3 linked regions of the Homo sapiens genome follow. The protein of the gene in region 2 interacts with the protein of the main gene of each other region in a pairwise test. Each region holds a gene or a part of one and is shown on either strand. Other genes may lie near its edges. The genes, in order: SENP2, ARMC12 and GAD2.

The links.
Region 1: the proteins of ARMC12 (region 2) and SENP2 interact in binary tests that used the Homo sapiens proteins (3 or more experiments, as listed by UniProt).
Region 3: the proteins of ARMC12 (region 2) and GAD2 interact in binary tests that used the Homo sapiens proteins (3 or more experiments, as listed by UniProt).

The regions. Positions count from the first base shown.
Region 1 is NC_000003.12:185,610,210-185,613,862, forward strand, and holds part of SENP2 (sentrin-specific protease 2), read left to right. Parts: intron 1-1,441; coding exon 1,442-1,536; intron 1,537-2,397; coding exon 2,398-2,449; intron 2,450-3,135; coding exon 3,136-3,199; intron 3,200-3,653. UniProt on the Homo sapiens protein: Protease that catalyzes two essential functions in the SUMO pathway.
Region 2 is NC_000006.12:35,740,011-35,743,663, reverse strand, and holds part of ARMC12 (armadillo repeat-containing protein 12), read right to left. Parts: intron 1-3,653. UniProt on the Homo sapiens protein: Essential for male fertility and sperm mitochondrial sheath formation. Required for proper mitochondrial elongation and coiling along the flagellum during the formation of the mitochondrial sheath.
Region 3 is NC_000010.11:26,219,707-26,223,359, forward strand, and holds part of GAD2 (glutamate decarboxylase 2), read left to right. Parts: intron 1-3,653. UniProt on the Homo sapiens protein: Catalyzes the production of GABA.

The sequences.
Region 1 (3,653 bases), on a different chromosome or scaffold from region 2:
GAGTGCAGTGATGCAATCTCAGCTCACTGCAATCTCCGCTTCCTGGGTTCAAGCGATTATCCTGCCTCAGCCTCCTGAGTAGCTGGGATTACAGGCGTCCACCGCCACGCCCAGCTAATTTTTTGTATTTTTGGTAGAGATGGGGCTTCACCATGTTGGCCAGGCCGGTCTCGAACACCTGATCTCAGGTAGTCCACCAGCCTCAGCCTCCCAGAGTGCTGGGATTACAGGCGTGAGCCACCGCACCCGGCCTACTATCTAGCTTTTGAATGCAGAAATAACAGATTGTTTGCGAATAATCAGTTGTGAACTTTAAAAAAAAATTCTTTTGGTTTAGTCAGAATGTCAGTATTTTCTCCATTTTGACCAGCCATATGTTGGAAACAGCAGTATGTTTAACGAACTCTTAACTTTGTCATGTTGGCGAAACCCTCAAACTATTTTTGCTTTTTAAAGTTGCTGCTTTGGCTGGGCACAGTGGCTCACACCTGTAATCCCAGCACTTTGGGAGGCCGAGGTGGACGGATCACGAGGTCAGGAGATCAAGATCATCCTGGCTAACACGGTGAAACCCCATCTCTACTAAAAAATACAAAAAATTAGCTGGGCATGGTGGCTGGCACCTGTAGTCCCACCTACTCGGGAGGCTGAGGCAGGAGAATGGCGTGAACCCGGGAGGCGGAGCTTGCAGTGAGCAGAGATTGTGCCACTGCACTCCAGCCTGAGCTACAGATCGAGACTCCGTCTCAAAATAAATAAATAAATAATTAAAGTTCCTGCTTCTGGCTGGGTGTGGTGGCTCACACCTGTAATCCCAGCGCTTTGGGAGGCCGAGGCAGGTGGGTCACTGGAGGTCAGGACTTCGAGACCAGCCTGACCAACATGGCGAAACCCCATGTCTACTAAAAATACAAAAATTAACCAGGTGTAGTGGCGTGTGCCAGTAATCCCAGCTACTTGGGAGGCTGAGGCAGGAGAACCACTTGAACCTGAGAGGTAGAGATTTCAGTGAGGCCATGATCACACCACTGCACTCCAGCCTGGGCGACAGTGCGAGACTCCGTCTCAAAAAACAAAAAGTTCTTGCTTTTAATGTATTGTTTCAGGATCCATTTAAATACATAGCTTAAAAAGTTTTTTATCTTTTAATCTGAGTTTTATCACACTGAGATTTTTCAGTTAGTGCATCACTGGGGATTCAGAACCTCTGATTTTACAAACAGAGAAACTGGAGGTTAGGTGACCTGGCTGAAATATTATTAGAATCATGATTAGACTCCTTTTATCCTAGTCCCACATAGTTGCTTCCTTTCTGTTGTAATTTGATATAATAGTGTAATCAATCACCCCTATTTGGAGAAGCTTGCTGGACAGAGATAATGCATATTAATGGTAGACTTTGCTTTTGTATCTGATCTCCCTCACTTTTTGTGTTTCTAAGTTCTCAAAGAAGTCAGATGGACACATTAAAGACCAAAGGCTGGGGGGAAGAGCAAAATCACGGAGTCAAAACAACTCAGTTTGTTCCAAAACAATGTGAGTTCCCAGATTTAGCCTTGTCTTAATATATTGACCTTAGTTCATGCTACAGTGTTCATATGAGGTAGAAAATTGACATTCAAGTGTAGATGGTGTACCAAAATACTGTCAAATCTCACAGCATTGGGCCGGGCGCGGTGGCTTACGCCTGCAATCCCAGCACTTTGGGAGGCCAAGGCAGATGGATCACCTGAGGTCAGGAGTTCAAGACCAGCCTGGCGAACATGGTAAAACCCCATCTCTACTAAAAATACAAAAATTAGCCAGGCATGGTGGCACTTGCCTGTAATCCCAGCTACTCAGGAGGCTGAGGAAGTAGAATTGCCTGAACCTGGGAGGTGGAGGTTGCAGTGAGCCAAGATCACGCCACTGCACTCCAGCCTGGGTGACAGTGAGACTCTGTCTCAAAAAAAAAAAAAAAACCTCACAGCATTGACTGGGGCTTATCTAGGAATTTAGTAGAAAAGCTGTTTCAGGGTGAAGTAGATTCATAACATGGCTCTGGATTATTATTCCTAAGCTGCTAGATAGTAGCAACTATTTTGTGAGCTGAAATTTTATTATATTCCTTATATAACAATTTCCTTATACTTCTCCACTTACTGTCCACTAAATGACAGCTTACCAGATAAGCAGATATCACTCAGTTTATAGTAAAGATTATATTTAAACAGCAAAGATATGTATGCATTTTTTTAGGCAACTTAGTATATAGGGAGGCTAGTGTCTTTGGAATTCACTGTAGCATTTCAATGTAGAGGAATGTCTTGATGTTGTGGAAACTCTGTAAGCTGAAATTCTAACTATATTATTCATCGATGAAGGAAACATTTAATCTTTTCTTTACCATCCTCACAGATAGACTTGTTGAAACAAGGGGACCTCTATGTTCATTGAGAAGTGAAAAGAGGTACGTACATTCAGTTCATTCTACACTTTCTTTTAATATATATTTTCTTACTTTATAAGCTGTATTTATGAGTAAGCAGTTCTGAGGAATTGTGAACTCTCTTGAGTTCTGGTAGTTGGTCAGCATATAGGGTAGATAGGTAGCTAGCTGTTGTGTCAGATGCCCACCCTAGCCTGGTGGGTTGAGGGGGGTGCCCCTTATCTCCCAGGCGTCAGGGGTTGGGAGAAACACATGCTTCTTAGATGGGAGTTTGGTTGGAGTGGGGATGTCTAGTGTCAGTGTCTTTAGGATAGGAACAGTAAAGGCAGCTCTGCATGCTTTAGGATTTTGGGATGATGGTTTATAGCAGAGTTTGTAAACTATGGCCCATGGGCCAAATCTGGTCTACTTGCCTATTTTTGTATAGTAAATTTCTATTGGAACATGCGAATTCATTTACATACTGTCTGGCTGCTTTTAAATTACAGTGGCAGAGTTGCCACGATGTGCCCAAGACCATAAAACCTGCAAAGCCTAAAATACTGTCTGTTCCTTTTCAGAAAAGTTCGTTGACTCCTGGTTTAGAGTATTATGTAAACTCAACACAATTTTTATGTACAAATTACGAAATCTTATTTCTAAAACTAGGATGTACTAGGTTTGAATCATCTAGCAGAAGTCTATCATCTCTCAATTTTTTTCCTTAGGTGTTCAAAGGGGAAAATTACTGATACAGAGACGATGGTCGGAATCAGATTTGAAAATGAAAGTGTAAGTAAAAATCCTAGTTACATTTGATACCTGTTTACTTATGTAACTTATGTTTTGGTGCCCATGAAAAGCAAGAAAAAGTATATATATATAACTTTGATTGTTAATTCTGTTGTTTTTCTTTAAAAAAGCAGCAAGCCAGCCAGTCACAGTGGCTCATGCCTGTAATCCCAGAACTTTAGGAGGCCAAGGCAGAAGGATCACTTGAGCCCAGGAGTTTGAGACCAGCCTGGGCAACATAGTGAGACTGTCTCCACAAAAAAATTTAAAAGTTAGCCAGGCATGGTGGCATGTCTGTAGTCCCAGCTACTTGGGAAGCTAAGGTGGGAGGATTGCTTGAGCCCAGGAGGTCAAGGCTGCAGTGAGCTGTGATCACACCATAGCACTCCAGCCTAGGTGACAGAATGAGACTCTGTCTCAAAAAAAAAAAAAAAAAAAAAGGCAGGAAGCATTG
Region 2 (3,653 bases):
AATATAAATTCCACAAGCACAGGGATCTTCCCTGTTCTGTTTACTGCTTTCTCTCCTGTACTTAGAGCAGCGTGTTGGCACAAAGTGTTCAATATTACATTTATTGAGTGAATAAAGGGATCTTCGGTTCTAGGATGCAAGATGCGGGCAGGACGCAGTGGCTCACGCCTTTAATCCCAGCACTTTGGGAGGCCAAGGTGGGCAGATCACCTGAGCTTGGGAGTTCAGGATCAGCCTGACCAACATGGAGAAACCCCATCTCCACTACAAAAACAAAAAATCAGCGGAACGTGGTGGCACATGCCTGTAATCCCAGCTACTCGGGAGGCTGAGGCAGGAGAATCACTTGAACCCGGGAGGCGGAGGTTGCGGTGAGCTGAGATCGCGCCATTGCACTCCAGCCTTGGCAACAAGAGCGAAACTCCGTCTCAAAAAAAAAAAAAAAAAGTAAGATGCTTGGACCTAGAGGCATTACCAAAGACAGGTAACCTCACGAGCTGCACCTTTATGAGCCATGTAAGAAGTAAGCAAGAGTCCTGGAGTGGAAGTGAGCATTCCCATCAGTACCTGCCCTTCCCTTCCCCCACCCCTCAAAAGCCGTGGCGACCCGCAGGACAGGTTGGAGTCAGCAAGTCTGGGACAGGGTTTCAGAACGAGGGAACAGCAGCAAGGGGGCATGTGAGAGCATAAAGCATGCATTGTACGTGGCTGGGGTTAGGGCAAGGAGGTGCAGCCCATGGCCAATCACGCACTTTATGCTGAGAGCCTTGAGGCAGACCCAAAGGGCCTGATGGCCTAAGAGCCCTCTGGAGAGAGTGGGCTGATTCAGGGAATGGGGTGAGCTCCATTTTGGATATGTTGGGTTAGAGAACTTGGAGGGCATCTAAGTGGATATGCCTAGTAGCAGCTGCCCATGGGGAAGGCAGGGGAGCCCACAGGCTGCAGAGATCCAGAAGGGCACAGCTAGATGGAAATTGAGATCAAGGAGTAACTACTTTCACCTGAAAAGAGACCAGGGGTCAGGCCCTCAGCATAAAGACACTGGGGAAAAAAAGGAAGAGTGGGACTCAGGCCGCCTGCATCAGAATTTCCTGGGGGATTTGTGAAAAACAAAGTTCTCCTGTTGAACTGAACTCCCTGGGCTTTTTTTTTTTTTTTTTTTTTTTTGAGACAGAGTCTCGTTCTGTGGCCCAGGCTGGAGTGCAGTGGCGTGATCTTGGCTCACTGCAAGCCTCTGCCTCCCGGGTTCAAGTGATTCTCCTGCCTCAGCCTCCCGGATAGCTGGGATTACAGGTGCCCGCCACCACGTCCGGCTAATTTTTGTATTTTTAGTAGAGACGGGGTTTCTCCATGTTGGCTAGGCTGGTCTCGAACTGACCTCAGGTGATCTGCCCACCTCAGCCTCCCAAAGTGCTGGGATTACAGGCTTGAACCACTGCGCCCAGCCAAAATCTTTGCTTTTAACAAGCTCTCCAGGTGATTATAATATGCTTGAGAATCACAGCCTGACCAGGTGTGGTGACTGACACCTGCAATCCCAGCACTTTGGGAGGCTGAGGCAGGTGGATCACTTGAGCTCAGGAGTTCGAGACCAGCCTGAACAACATGGCAAAACCCCACCTCTAAAAAAATACAAAAATTAGCCGGGCATATTGGTGCATGCCTGTAATCCTAGCTACTAGGGAGGTTGAGGTGGGAGGATCACTTGAGTCCTGGAGGTGGAGGTTGCAGTAAGCCAAGATCGTACCACTGCACTTGAGAAGGCTGAGGGATGAGGCAGCAAGCAGAGATCTCTCTAGGTATTTTTTTCTGTTTGTTTCTCAATCTATTTTTATTCTTTTGTGTGTTTGCTTTTATTGATATATCATAGTTGTGCATATTTTGAGGATACATGTAAAGAGAATTTTTTCCCCAAAAAAGTTTGATGCCAAAAATTAAAATGTGGACCACGCATGGTGGCTCATGTCTGTAATCCCAGCAGTTTGGGAGGCCGAGGCAGGCAGATCACTTGAGGCCAGGAGTTTGAGACCAGCCTGGCCAACATGGTGAAACCCTGTCTTTACTAAAATACAAAAAAATTAGCCAGGCATGGTGGTGCGCGCACGCCTGTGATTCCAGCTACTCTGGAAGCTGAGGCACAAGAATTGCTTGAACCTGGGAGGCAGAGGTTGTAGTGAGCCGAGATCGTGCCACTGCACTCCAGCCTGGGCAACAGAGCAAGACTCTGTCTCAAAAAAAAAAAAAATTAAAATGTGAAATTATCAAACGTTAGGTTATGACACAATAGAACACTCGTGCAGGGCTGGTGGGGTGAAAATGGATACCTCCCTCCTGGAAAAGTTGGGCATACCCTTTGACCAAACCATTCCACTCCTGCATACACACCCTAGAATCCTCTCTCAGGCACACAAGGGAGACGAACACAGGAATGTTCACAGCACAATGTGAGTGTGACAAGCACCTGGAAACAATGCAAATGCCTAACAACGGGCAAGTGGCAGAGTATTCACGAAAGAGACCACCACAGAGCGGTGAAAGAGACCCAGGGGGGAGAATTGCTTGAGCCCAGGAGTTCAAGGCCAGCCTGAGAAACATAGTACTCCCGTACTCACTGAGCACACCCGTACTCCCAGCTACTAGGGGAGCTGAGGTGGGAGGACTGCTTGAGCCTGAGAAGTCAAGGCTGCAGTGAGCCAAGATCACGCCACTGCACTCCAGCCTGGGCGACAGAACGAGACCCTGTCTCAAAAAAAAAAAAAAAAAAAACCAGAAGGAAGCAGAGCTGCCCAATAAGGATGAATCTCTCCACGTAGCAGGGAGAAAAGGCCAACCACAGAATAGAAACCATCTACTTCCATGTACATGAAGCTTAAAAACATACCAGACTATATTTTACCTCTTTATTATCTGCTATGCCCTGCTAGAATATGCAAGGATACATACATATATGGTAAAACTACAAAGAAAATTTGGAACTGCTAAACAAAATGCAGGGTAATGACTGCCTCTGGTGGGGGAGGCAGCCAAGATGTGGGAGGGGGCTGTGCTCTATTTCTTGGCCTGGGCATGTTCTGTTTTATTGTTATTCCTTCTAACTTACACATATACAATATTTGCAAGTTTTACATATTTTATTTGTTTTTAATTTGGGAGAGATAGACTATTTGCCAGGAAGAGATGTGGAGGTCAAGGGAGAGGCTTTTTTGGTTTTGCTTTGTAAGATGGGAGGGGTTGGAGCCTACTGCATGCTGATGGGGGAGCGGAGCGTAAGCAATCAGAGAGGCCCTTAAGGAAGGGGTGGGAGGCAGGATTGAGACTATCACTGGCCACAGACCAGGAGAAAGCCATTTTTTTCATGGCAGCAGCAGGAAAGCAGGGAGGATGGGTGTGGATACTGTAAGTTTGGGGGTATGATAGCAGGGAAAGGGGGAAGTGACATGTGGTGTTTTACATTTTGTCTATGGAGTAATGGAGAAGTTATCCGTGGCCATGACACCAACCTCTGATTAACACAGGCCCAGGGGATAGAGTATAAAAAATACATCTGATCTTTGTCCCTAGTTCCAGGAACAGAGCTCCTGAAACCTTTGGAATTTCCTGAGTGACAGCAGTGTCCTTTGTTACTGCAAACCAACCCTTTTTGGTCACAACAG
Region 3 (3,653 bases), on a different chromosome or scaffold from region 2:
TCAGAAACAGGACTCACCACCCTATTAATCATTGAGTGGGAGGGATGTTTTCACATTGTGTCAAATGGCCAACCTTTCAGATTTGAATTCAGATTTTCACTTATTTTTAAGGAAATGTGCACAACACACAAGCAGGCATGATACAGACTAGCTTAGCAATTCAGCCATGTTATATAAGGATGTGTGTTCCTCCCAGCCACTGTATATGTGAGATAAAGAAAAAGGGGGGGAGGGGCAAATCAGATATCCTTAGGGGGAAATTTTTTTAAATGTACTTTTGTGGTCTCTTGGCTTTTCACAGGAGTCTTTATATTCCATCCATATTACAGCTTCATTTATAACATTTATTTGGGTGCATTCCGAGCTTTCATGTTATCTACACAAAGTCAGCCATTCATCTGCCCAGGTCTTGATTACCCTCGCTTTTTACGTTGTCTCTAATCATCCTGATACACGATGGCTGACACTTCATTACGGCAATAAAAATAAGTATGAATGAATTTCCAGGGGTGGGGAGGACTTTGTGGATCGAAGTTGATGTGTAGCCTTTAAAAGATTTGCTAGCAAATAAAAAATGTGAAATATGACATGAACATTCATCACCATAGAAACGTCATCTTTTTAGATTGCAAACATTTTGCTGATGAATTAGCAGTATTACGCTAATCAATAACAAACATTCTTAAAATGTTTGCTGTGAGAAGTTTAGTTCTTTTTTTCTTTTTGTTCACATTATTTGTACCAACAGAGAAGAAAGGTAGGCATACAAAAAGCCTTGGGACATAGATTTCTATCAAAGTCAGGCTATGGAATAGGAGTTTTGAAGGTGTATTAGACATCATCCTCAATTAACGTTCATGAAGAACCCACGTGATGTTTATACCAGGCATTAAAAATTTTCCTACCCCTCCTCAGCTTTTCCTGCATTCATAGTGCAATCCTGGGTGATGCTTTTAATTCATTTTTTGACCCATTCCCCATACCTTATATTTAGATACGTTAATAGTAAATTGCCACCTATTGTTTGTATTGCTACCAAACCAAAAAGAACCTATGGAAATGTTTTGTGTCTTCATCCTTGAAAGCTAGTGGTGCCTGAAATGCAGTCTACAGAGTTAAGATAATGGGAACTGCAAGTCAATGAAAGTAATAGTTCTGTCTATCAACGTTGCATTTAGTGCCAGGAAAAGATGGGCTAATTCAATACTTACATTTTGCCATAATGCTTATGAAACTGTTAGGTGTCACTGTAATGCATTTTATTTAAAGTTCAGATAAAAATGTGATGGATTAAGTTGGATTTCTAAGCAAGGCATATCAATTCAATCTCTCAATAGTTTTCATAACATATTTAGTCTGCTGGCCTTTTCCTTCAAATAGCATTTCAAAAAATTAACAGCAGTCATTTTCTCTATTCAGCTGGCAACTTTATAGATTTCTGTGCTATAACTGTCATACTTGTCATCTAATGCTATTTAGGGTATGTCAAATTAGTTACCATCCTTGCTACTACCAGACATTTTAATACTCCTCAAGAGATTATTTTATAAAATGCATATTATCATCTTGTTTCTACTGAGAGACCTTAACCTGATTTCCACTTGGGCTCCAAGCTTAGAGAGGAGTGAAGGGCAGTGGGAAAATGAAGTCTTCATGGATTGTTAAAATTACCTCTGTAAAAAGAAATGTTGGAACACGGAAAACTGAGCAGAGAATGATAGAATTCCAGAATAATTTGCATTTGCAGAGATCATTAGATTTGGTGCTAGTGGTGGTGGTGCTGGCTGGGGAAGAGTAGGACTTAAATGTGGTCCTGAATCTTTTACCAAACCATCAGACAAAGGGAATTAAGCGTCAGTAGATGAGGCAGCCCTAGTGTGAGTGTTGCCAGGACATAAAGAGCAGTTTGGACCGACTTTTGGCCTCTTCCCAACTGATCATGAGCACAGGGTCAGAGTTGCCTGAGGCTGGTTGTTCGCAGAGTCTGCGCATCCTTCCGGGCTCATTTGCTAGTCTGCAGGGAGCATCCCTGAGTCTGAGCAGCCAGTTCTCACATCTCAAGCTCGCCACCTTCCTGGCTGCATAGGCTGTGTGGCCACCCAATGGCTGACGCAGTGCGCTCTGCTCCCATCACAGGGCCTGGCAGGGTGGCGACAGCAGCAGGAGGCCAAGGGCTGCAGGGACACCTGACCTATGGGGGCAGGTCTCACAATTCCTTGGAGAGAGCCCTGCCTTGATTTGCTGGGCAGCCCTAGGAAGCAGCCTGTAGGGGCCACAGGATGGGAGCAAATGTCACTAGGGGAATATTTCTGCCAGAAATCGAGAGAGCCTGTTGATCTGACCTGTCAAACTATCTCCCTCCCTATTTTCACATCATCATCAGGGAATGAAATTTTTGAGGCAGGAGAGATTCAGGTGAAATGGCAGAGCAAGGTCAAAATATATATAGGGAGGAAGGGAAACCTAGCAATGAAAGCGTCAAACCTGTTTTCACTGTTTACGGAAAGTTATCATCAGGGTGAATTGGCCTTCTGATATCCAGAGGCACAACACACCCCTCACAATCTCTCTCCATCTTATGCACAGGTTTTCATTCCCAAGTTTCCCTAGAGTTAAATACTGTCTAATCATAGACACCACATTCATCCAGAAAATGAATATGAATTATAATCCTTATTAATTTCCTCACTTGAAAAAAAAAGGGTTAGGGAAAGAGAAATGAAGGAGCATCGGGAGGGAGGAAATGGCTGTGATTTCAGCTGCGAGCATAATGAAATGGGGAGTCAATGAGGCAGAGAGGAGTGAAGGGTTGCTCCAGACCTCAGTGGCCACAGCAGCAAAAAAGCCTTCTCACCCTTCGTGGATGGGTAAACTGAGGGGGTCAGCATCAGAGATAGAGGGGTACCACACGAGGCCACAAGGACATAAAACAATGCTGGAGAATGTACAATAGATACACAAGTCCTGATCCCGCTAAAATGGGCTCCCTCCCAGCTTATATCTTTACCCAGTGTCTGTCTGGCCACATGCCTGAGGCTGATAAGAGAGCACTCCAGTGCAGGAGATAAGCTAGCCATTGACTTTTGTCCCTGCTCTTCCCCATTGCCTTCCTTTATCTTGTTTTGCCTGTGCTGGAGATGAGAGACAATCACATCCCAGGCTTCAGACAGATGTCCAGGATGTGGAAGATACCTTTTTATCAGATGCTATTTCCACAATGGCCCATCTTCTAAAATTTTTGCTGCTGTGCAAATCACGGACCTATCGATGACAGGCTTTTGTGGAGCAAGAGGAGAAAACTGAATGCTAATGACATATTTATAATCACATTTTAAATAATAGCCTCAGGAGAGTGTGGATGTCAATCCATTTAGAGAGTTTTAGAGGAATCTAGAAGTTAATTAGATAAGCCTTGCGATGGACTAATCAGTCGATTGAGTATATCTTTCTGTATCTTGTTGATAAAACAGTGATGTTGACTGTATGTGGCCTTATTTTAAATCACAACTATGGAGGAGCGCTGTTGTTTATAATTAACAAAGAAGAATTGACAAGAATTAGCTTTGTCCATGCCATCTTTAGACAATCATCACCTTTTGAATCCAGGGCAAATCATTCAGCAGAGTGTCCTATTTTCTCATTTTTGCCCTGTC